Homo sapiens: one gene and its partners. Changing the gene in region 3 together with the main gene of any one other region gives a genetic interaction. Each region holds a gene or a part of one and is shown on either strand. Other genes may lie near its edges. The genes, in order: GATB, PITRM1 and PMPCB.

Region 1 (3,656 bases), on a different chromosome or scaffold from region 3:
TTGCAGTGGGGTGGATCACAAAGTGTACTTACAGGGAGGTCTGCATAGAAGTAGTGCTTCCTGTCAAACAAGGACTTCTTGTTTATGTGGCAGTTCAGAGCCAGGCCTGTCATCACCGCCGCTTCTACACACCTCCTGTTGAGAACCTATGGGAACACAACACACAGTTCCTCTCAGAACCGCAGGCTGAACAAATGCTTCTCCCACACACTGACATCCTCGCTGAATATGCAACTTGGCCCTTCAACAGGCATTATCTCTGGTTCTCTGGGTGGGCAGCTCCAGTTCACAAGCCGAGTCTGTTTGCCTGGGAATCAGGGAAGGATATAAAGAAGAAAATGTATGCAGCAGTGGGTCCCACCGGGCACTTAAGGAACTGCCACATCGGGAACCCTTTCCCCCAGTGCCCGGCATCAAAGCTAACAGGAAGAGTCGCAGAAAAGCTTAGCGGAGTGGTTACTACATAGAATAAATCTAATCTCACTCCCTCTACAAACAGAATAAGGGGCCGGTCAGAATACACAAGAGGCACTGATTGCTGAGAGGAGTCCTGAGGAAGGGTGGCTTCACTTTGACAGAAAAAGAATGAACTTCTGAAAACGACAGGGCCGTAGCCATTTTCTCAAGGGCTAGGAAATGTGGCACAGCTGTTGCCTGGCTTTCTGTCCATGCCAGGCCAACTCCCTAAAAGTGGAACGCCAACGGAGGGCCTGTCCCACACACTGGACGACTCCGTGCTGCTGGTCTCTCTGGGGGCACCTGGTGCTCCAGTTCCCTCTGGGTGCCACCCTGTCCCACTTACAGGAGTGAATGACCAAGAAATGGCTGGCACACTTCCCAGCACCAAAGAATGTCAAAGCTTTTAAGAACACTGGGGGTCTGGAACTAGACAACGAGATAATGTAGCCAAGGAGAAGGAGCATTAAGTTCTCGAGTCAGGTTCAAATCCCACTTCTGCTGTGACTAGGAGTCTCAGTTTCCTTGTGTCTAAAAGTGGGATTTAAGATCTACTTTGCAGAACAGATAAAGTGATAGCTGGAACACCTCCCCTAAGGTAGAGATTCAATAAATAGTTCATTTCCCTACTCTACTTTGGGACAATTTTGGAGGATGTCATGTTTGCAGATGAAATATATTTCTATTTTTGTTAGGATATTTATGATGTTCTTTAGTATATTTAATATACTATTATTGATATAGATAGGGCCTTCTAGTTGAGCATTTCCACATCCACCATTTTATTTCAGCCTCACAGCAACGCTGTAAAATAAGGAATCTGCATTATTCCAATATTTCAGATTAAAAAAACAAAACTAAGACCCAAAGAGTCTAAAACATTTGCCCAAATTCACAGAACTGGCAAGTGGTAAAGCTGCCTGTAAAGCCCACACATGCCGTGGCTGAGAGGCGGCAAACAGAACTTCTGTGGTTCAGGGACTGGCTCTTTAGGCTGGGATGACGAGTGTAGACCAAACACAGATTTTAAAAACAAATTTCTACAACAAAATGGAAGGGGCATTTCTATTTACTGCAATATACGGTCCCCAAAGAAAACCCAAACAAGGGCCAGGCGTGGTGGCTCATGCCTGTAATCCCAGCACTTTGGGAAGCCAAGGCGGGTATATCACGAGGTCAGGAGATCGAGACCATCCTGGCTAACACAGTGAAACCCCGTCTCTACTAAAAATACAAAAAATTAGCTAGGTGTGATGGCAGGCACCTGTAGTCCCAGTTACTTGGGAGGCTGAGGCAGGAGAATCACTTGAACCCGGGAGGTGGAGGTTGCAGTGAGCCGAGATCTCGCCACTGCACTCCAGCCTGGGCGACAGAGCGAGACTCCATCTCAAAAAAAAGGAAAAAGAAAAGAAAAAAAGAAAACCTAAACAAATCTCCCGCCTAGTGACAACATCACACCCTTATTTTTCAGGACTCAGGTTATAAGATGGAGCCATTTCACAGTTTCTATTTGGAGTTCTTCATTCTGTGCCTAATAATGTCAGCTCTGCAGCAATAAAGGTTTTCAAGAAAAGATGTGTGGGGAACAGGAGGCTCTAATTATTGATGTTTTCACTTGCCTAATGTCTGGCATTTTACTGAGCGGTTGTTACTGAGATACAAACATAGCTGGTGGAGAATCCCGCCAAATCCAAGCCTGATGATTCGGGTCCAGGCACACAGAACATGAAGCTGCAGTCCCGACCCTGGGCTTTGCTCTTCCTGGGGTCAGAATGCAGTCAGCCAGGGCTGGCTCGTAAACTGCCTGACTCCTGGTCTGCACCAGTTCTGCCTCATCATTCCCTCTGCTTTCCTAACCACTGCTTTCGCTCTCATTTCAAGCTTCTTTGCCCCTGGGACCAAGCTGCTTCCTCCTGCTAGGCATGAAGAGAACCCAGGTTATTTTGTTTGTTTATTTTCAAGCACGCACCATAGCCTCCCTGTGGGAGAAGAGTTGAGGACCATCACAGACTCTCACTGTGTCCGTGTGCACACAAGCGCACGGGCACTTCATAAACCACCACTTTCCAGAGAAGAAGGCAGTAAAACACACAAACATTACAGTGATACTGAGAATATGCTTTAATCTTTTTTTGATGATTTAGAAGCCATGAAGTACTTCAAGGTCAGAATTATAAGCATCAGTCATCACACGTTACAGATGCACAGAGGGCCCAGTAAACAGAGAGTGTCAGTTAGAAGAATGCCAAGAAAAAAAGGAATTTCCTAGGATCTTAGTCAAGCTGCTTGTGACAGATGGAAGTCCAGGTCAGCATGTTCTGAGGATAGGATACAGAATGGGAAAATTCAACTTGGGCTGTCTTCACTCTGAAAAAAAAAATTCTTAAATGTCTATAAAGCACTAAACTTTAGGGGTACATAGATAAATAGGACTCTGTCTCTGCCCTCAATGAATCCGCAGTGGTGACATGAACCTGCCAGCATCTGCAAACCCTTTTCAAGTTTGTCTTTCATACTAGGGTGATCCTGCTAAAATTGTGGATCTGTGGCATTCTGTTACCTGAAGTCCCTCAATGGCCCCTGATGTTCCCACGACAAAGGCCAAGCTCTTACATGATCAAACTCCTGCCTACATCTTCAATTTCATCTACCACCATGTCCCCCCACAACACCTCTGCTGTAGTTCCTCTGTGCAAACCGTGCTGATCTTCTGATTCTCCCCATTCTTATTCCCTTCAAAATCCTAGTGGGACGTCACCACTTCTGTGAAGCCTTCCTTGTTGTCCTTTCTGTGTACCTCTTCTGACCTTCTACACACTCCCATTGGGGCTTCCATCACAGTGGATTGAATTTGTTCACATGTAGTTCCACACAATTGCACATTTCATGAGGACGGGAATTGTCTGTTCACCCTTGTATCCCTGGAGCCTAATACAGAACCTGAAAAATTGTGGTATTTGATTAATGTGTGCTGAGCTCAAAGGAGGAGGGAGGGGATGATATCAATGGACGATTTCAGAGAGGCAGTGATGCCCCAGTCTCCTCTAAGGTGTTACCTGCCACATGCTGGCCTGCAAACTTGTTTCTGGAAGTGCCCTGAAGTGACAACTGATTGTGTGTGATACGATCAAGATGTAATTTAAAAACTAAAAAGACTAACTTGGCTTGAAGAAAGTATGTTCCAGAATTTCTCTGTAATT
Region 2 (2,434 bases), on a different chromosome or scaffold from region 3:
GTGGGTGGGGCGGAGGTGGGTTCAAAAATCTGATAGCCAGCTTCTCCTCCAGGCCAAGCCACAGTCCTCGCTGGGACCTAGGTTGGAACTCTCCGGAAGACTCCTGCCAGAGTAGACACGGCTGCTGGGATGACAGCCCTGCTGCCCTGGTGGGCCCCCCTCCTGTAGGGACAGCGTTTCTGCCTCTTAGCTCTAGTCTGCAAGAGAGAACAGCTGCGCCTCAGAAATGGGGGCAGAGAGCTGGGTGGAGGGAGAGGAGAGGCCAAAAACAAACTCTGTTTGGGAAATCAGAGTCCGACAGCCAAGAAAGAGCTAGCGCGGAGGCTTTCCTTTCTGGCTCTGTAACGATGAAGCAAGCGCTTACTCACCCCAACCCACTTGCTTCTCAGGACGGTTTCCATGCAGCCGCCGCGGTGAACTCCCGTCTGGTGGACACTCCCCCAGGGCCTCGGTGTGATGGAGTTTCCTGAATCAGCGCAGGCAGACGTGGGACACCCTTGTGCACCTTTTCATTTTACTTCTGTTTTTAAATAAAGGCCCTAAATGCTGCTTAAAATAATGACTCAAGCAGAGGTTAAGTCAGAGTTGCCCTTTATTTTTAGATTCTTAAATATTCTAGAATGAGGTAAAACGAGCCTGCCAGTACAAAGTGAAAATTCTACATGGTGCATCTTTGGCGCTTCATGCATGATTATTTCAATGAACCTCTTCCTGGTCACTCTTAAGATAGATCTGAGTTTTTGACTCGCCAGTCAAGGGCTTTGGCGACACTCAATGACATAATATTCTTGGAAAAAGCAGTAGCATTTCTGACTTTTCATATTCAGCTCGGAGGTGTATTGTCTCGGGCTCCTGTGCAGTCGAGCGCCACGGCTGCTCATTGGATGATCCAGGATGGGTCCTTGGCAATTTTCGGGTTCTCGGGTCCGAGGATGGCCAGGCCGTGTGTGCTCTTCCCAGTGCCGAGGTATCTGAGAGGAAGGCAGGCGTGGTCAGCAAGGACTGGCTTCTGCGTGAGCGCTGTTAGAGTCAGCACGAGGGCTTCCAGTCCCAGACGCTGTCTCCCCCGCTCCCCACTCACCTATCGCTCACGGCCAGGAGCTTGTCGTGGCTGACAGCAAAGAGCTGCTCTCTGTGGGCCTGCTTCATCTCATCCGAGAGGCCGTACAAGAAGTGGTCCATTCCTAGAAGACAATCCACAGGCACGATGGAGCCGCTGCCCGGGAGCTCGCGTTGTGGGCTGTGCACTCATGTCCCGGAGGGGACACAGGCATCTCACTGTCATTTCACGTGCATGTTTCAACCACAGGGATGTGTCTAACAACCCAGAGATCACACCCCGACCTCCAGCTCCCACGTGCCACGCTGACCCCTACCCACGCCTGCTTCTGCAGCAGGGATGCAGTCAGCGCCGCGTGAGGCTGATGATGCTGTGAGCAAAAGCGGCTCCAGAGAGTAACGTGGCCATGCCCGGGCCGTGCCCACGTCCTCCTTCCACCCTAAAGAGCCCGGACACTGCCATGGGTTGGCCCCACTGGGTCTCAGGTCAGTAAAACAAATGACAGGATGCACTCTTCTCGCCCGGATGTCAGGAAGCGTGTTTAGGGTGTCAGACGTGGAAATCGTATCACAAGCAAGGATGGAGGCACCAGAAGCTAGTGCTCCTGCCCATGCATGCCGGGAACTTGGAAAACAGCAACGTCATCTGTGAGGCTGTGGGTTGAGATTCTCACTGTTATACTCAAAATACCTTTGTCTGAAGGAGCGACAGGAGCATCTACGGTTGAGAAGACAGAAAGTTTGGCTTCGTCGATGTCTTGCTGTGTGAATTTTCCAGACTTAGCCCAGTCGACAGCCTTCCCAAAAGACTGGAGCGTCTCTATTGTATTTGGGTCCCTAGGAAACCCAGAGAAATAAACGGGCAAGCATTTTACCAGTGGACAAGTTTATGACAAACCTCTGTCGACTTAACAGTTCAACATCTTCTATGGGTTAACAGCTCTATTTTATATCTGATTTAGTCCAAACAGCCCACTGACAAATCGCTCAATTACTCTCAATGGAAATTTAAATCTGATCACATAAGCCTTTCAACATGTTCTCCCTCTTAGACAAGGTCTGTCTGCACAAAGTCCTCCCTAGATTATTTAAATACACTTCTCTGTGACCTCATCAGGAGAGGAAAGTCAGTGGAGGGTAGGGGCAGGTCAGGATTACAGGGAAATTACAAAGACTTACATGGAAAAATTAAGCAAACAAAGGTTTTCCTTTCATCTCCCTGAAGACACACCCAGGGTAGTACAGGAATCAGCCTGAGGGGGCCAATCCAGACTTCCCTTCGTGTAAATGCAAAGAGCCCAGCCCTCCCTTCACCCTGAGCTGCAGAGGGGCGGCTGTGAGCTGCTTCCCCATCCTTGTCTAGAAGCATGGCTTC
Region 3 (3,656 bases):
AAGTTGAAACCAATTTACAAGAAGTTGTTTTTGATTATCTTCATGCCACAGCTTATCAAAATACTGCACTTGGACGGACAATTTTGGGACCAACTGAAAATATCAAGTAGGTATAACAGAATTTCTTGGTGTATAAGGGAATTTATGAATGTTGAAAATAAACATTTACAAATTTTCAAAAAGTATGTTTCAGAAAGTAATTTTCCCCCTGGTAATCTAAGTGAAACTGTAGTTAGCTACATTTTAGTCCCACCTAGCTCCCAAGCACGTGAGTTCATAGGTACTTCGGGAATAAACCAGTAATGGTGTATTTTTTCTTTGATGTAAAAAAGGTGAAGTTCTTTGATGTGTTGCCTGTATCCTATTTCTGACTGCATTTTAGGATACAGTTATGGTCCAATTTGATTTCAGGTATATTATGTGAAGATCTGTTTTTTTTTTGGTTTCCTTTAAAAATTGTTTTACTTCATTTACAGATCTATAAGTCGTAAGGACTTAGTGGATTATATAACCACACATTATAAGGGGCCAAGAATAGTGCTTGCTGCTGCTGGAGGTTAGTCAATTTAAATTTCTACAAATGTTTTAAACACAGTTGTTGGAGTGGTATGCTTATTAGTTTGATCCTGTTGGGAGATACCCTAAGAATTTTCATTTACATAGCAAATAACTGATAGTGTGTAAGGGGAATGTGGAGCACTGGAATCAGAATTTCCCTCTATTTTTTTTAAAGTAGGTTTCATTTAGGCCAGGCATGGTGACTCACACCTGTAATCCCAGCACTTTGGGAGGCCGAGGTGGGCGGATCACGAGGTCAGGAGTTCAAGACCAGCCTGACTAATATGGTGAAACCCCATGTCTACTAAAAATACAAAGTAGCTGGGCGTGGTGACATGCGCCTGTAGTCCCAGCTACTCGGGAGGCTGAGGTAGGAGAATTGCTTGAACCCAGGAGGCGGAGGTTACAGTGAGCCAAGATTGCACCACTGCACTCCAGCGTGGGCGACAGAGTGAGACTGTCTCAAAAAAAAAAAAGAAAAGTAGGTTTTATTTATAGAAAGACTTAATGAACTGTTCAATACATAAGCGTACATAGTAGAACGTGCAAGAAAAGGGCAAAGGAGTGAACTGGGAGAGAGTCGGAAGATGGTGTTCTGTACTTTGAGAATTTTTTGAGATTTTAAATTATTTCTTGAGAACCAACTTCGTCCTTGTTCAAGCATGGAACGGGTATGTTCATTCTTTGATTTGTTCAATCATTCATTTAATAGATCTAATTTTTGGGAAGGAGAAGCACATAGGGAGCCATAAGAATGTTGAATGGGAATCCAAACATGCAGGTGACTTCAGAAGGTTTCCTTGAGGTCATGTTTGAAGCCAGTGAATGAAAAAAAAAATTGACAACAGATATTGCCAGATTTCCTGGCAGTCTGAATCTAGACAGCAGTACATTTTAATTGGTTTCCAGTTTTTTATTTTTTTCTTTTTAAAATACATTTATAGAAATAGAGATGGATTCTTAACTATGTTGCCCAGGCTGGTTTCAATCTCCTGAGCTCAAGTTATCCTTCCACCTTGACCTCCCAAAACTTGGGGATTACAGGCGTGACCCACCGCACCTGGTCTCCAGTTTTCATTTCTTTGTATTTTTTAATATTAGAGCAAAGCGAAGTGTTCTTTCGTGTTGTAAATTTTTCTCTTTTTAGAGATCATAATTTAAAAATTCTAGTTGCTCTGGATTGATTTCTGAGCTAAGTACCTGGCGGGTAATGGAGAAGATGAAAACATTAAATATCAAACATGTTATTCATTGTAGCTACCTTCATTGTACATGGCAGGAAGTGCACTCTGAAATTCTCTTGAGTAACATTGTTTCTAAATTGGCTCTTGCAGACTTGGGCTTAAGTGTTTGAAACTGCCTTGGAAATGGGACAAGAGACTTGTTAGATGGGTCCTCAACAACCAAGCTTTCTGGGACCTCTCTGCCATTGTTGGTGGCATGTGGACAAAATGAGTTTTACTTTGGTTCATGGGTTCATTTTGACATAGCTAAAATTGAGATATCTTTAGTTTAATGGCTTATAGATTAATTAGTATTCATTTTAAATACTACATAAGTGATGTGCCTTATAAATGATTGCATCTTAAATTCAATGAAATAGGCCAGTTTTAAGTTTCTGCTGACCTCTGAATTATGTCTTGGCTACCATTTATCTCTTCTAGGCTAATCATCAGGATGTATAGCTTTTATTTGCCAAATAGTTTTTTGTATCCTAGCTTCATTTATTATAAAATTATAATTTAACATTTTAATTGTAAATTAAGTTAAAGAATCTTAATTTGGGTCTCAAGTAAGGGATATAGAGTCTAAGTAATTCCTGAGTTTTTGCATTTGGATACCTATTGATGTATTCAGAAATTTAGATGACACTATTTTGTTCCTGAGTTCTTTTTTTTTTTTTTTTTGAGATGGAGTTTTGCTCTTATTGCCCAGGCTGGAGTACAATGGCATCATCTTGGCTCACCGCAAACTCCGCCTTCCGGATTCAACTGATTGTCTTGCCTTAGCCTCCCGAGTAGCTGGGATTACAGGCATTTGCCATCACACCTGACTAATTTTGTATTTTTAGTAGGGATGGGGTTTCTCCATGTTGATCAGGCTGGTCTACCTCTACCTCTGACCTCAGGTGATCCGCCTGCCTCAGCCTCCGAAAGTGTTGGGATTACAGGCGTGAGCCACCACACCAGGCCCTGTTCCTGAGTTCTGATAGCAGAGCATGGAGAATAAAGTTTATCTGTGTATCCAGCTTTCTTTTATTTATTTAATTTTATTTATTTTAGAGACAGAGTCTTGCTCTGTCACCCAAGTTGGAGTGCAGTGGTGTGATCTCAGCTCACTGCAAACTCCACCTCCTAGATTCAAGCAGTTCTCCTGCCTCAGCCTCCTGAATAGCTGGGATTATTACAGGCGCCTGCTACCATGCCCAGCTAATTTTTGTATTTTTAGTAGAGACAGGGTTTTACCATATTGGCCAGGCTGGTCTTGAACTCCTGATCTCAAGTGACCTGCCCACCTTGACTTCCCAAAGTGCCGGGATTACAGGTGTGAGCCATGGCACCCGGCTTTTAAAATTTATTTTATTGAGACAGAGTCTTGCTATGTTGTCCAGGCTGGTCTTGAACTCCTGAACTCAAATGATCCTCCCACCTCAGCCTCCTAAAGAACTGGGATTATAGGCGTGAGCCACCATGCCCAGCTCCAGCTTTTTAAAAATTAGATAGAGCCCATATTTGTATTTTCCACTAAAAAATTTTTTTTTTGAAAATTGGCATTTTTTGCTAGTTTGGATCCCAGAGGTTTTTATAATTTAATAGAAAATGATTTTGTAAAACGTGGAGTTTTCAAGTTGTCTTATTCTTAGCTGTGAATCCATTGGTCTGTTGATGAAAACTGTCATTTGCTCTACAAAATGAGAAAGCTGTGCAACCTCAAGCTTTGCAACACCAAGGAAATAGGTGTGCTATGTGAGCTTACTCTTAAATAATGGCTTTTAGTGAGTGTAGATAGTTCATGTGTAATGTACATCACATTATACCACCTAGGGTTTATTGTAAACTATATTGCTGCTAGATACATGTGAAAATATTTTCTTTCAA

The links.
Region 1: changes in PMPCB (region 3) and GATB together harm fitness more than expected from each alone (negative genetic interaction), as found in Homo sapiens cells (one large-scale study listed by BioGRID).
Region 2: changes in PMPCB (region 3) and PITRM1 together harm fitness more than expected from each alone (negative genetic interaction), as found in Homo sapiens cells (one large-scale study listed by BioGRID).

Annotation. Positions count from the first base shown.
Region 1 is NC_000004.12:151,719,393-151,723,048, forward strand, and holds part of GATB (glutamyl-tRNA(Gln) amidotransferase subunit B, mitochondrial isoform 1 precursor), read right to left. Parts: intron 147-3,656; coding exon 33-146; intron 1-32. UniProt on the Homo sapiens protein: Allows the formation of correctly charged Gln-tRNA(Gln) through the transamidation of misacylated Glu-tRNA(Gln) in the mitochondria. The reaction takes place in the presence of glutamine and ATP through an activated gamma-phospho-Glu-tRNA(Gln).
Region 2 is NC_000010.11:3,137,154-3,139,587, forward strand, and holds the end of PITRM1 (presequence protease, mitochondrial isoform 2 precursor), read right to left. Parts: intron 1,897-2,434; coding exon 1,751-1,896; intron 1,185-1,750; coding exon 1,082-1,184; intron 972-1,081; coding exon 878-971; 3' UTR 575-877; downstream 1-574. UniProt on the Homo sapiens protein: Metalloendopeptidase of the mitochondrial matrix that functions in peptide cleavage and degradation rather than in protein processing. Has an ATP-independent activity. Specifically cleaves peptides in the range of 5 to 65 residues.
Region 3 is NC_000007.14:103,303,935-103,307,590, forward strand, and holds part of PMPCB (mitochondrial-processing peptidase subunit beta isoform 1 precursor), read left to right. Parts: coding exon 1-106; intron 107-476; coding exon 477-556; intron 557-3,656. UniProt on the Homo sapiens protein: Catalytic subunit of the essential mitochondrial processing protease (MPP), which cleaves the mitochondrial sequence off newly imported precursors proteins. Preferentially, cleaves after an arginine at position P2.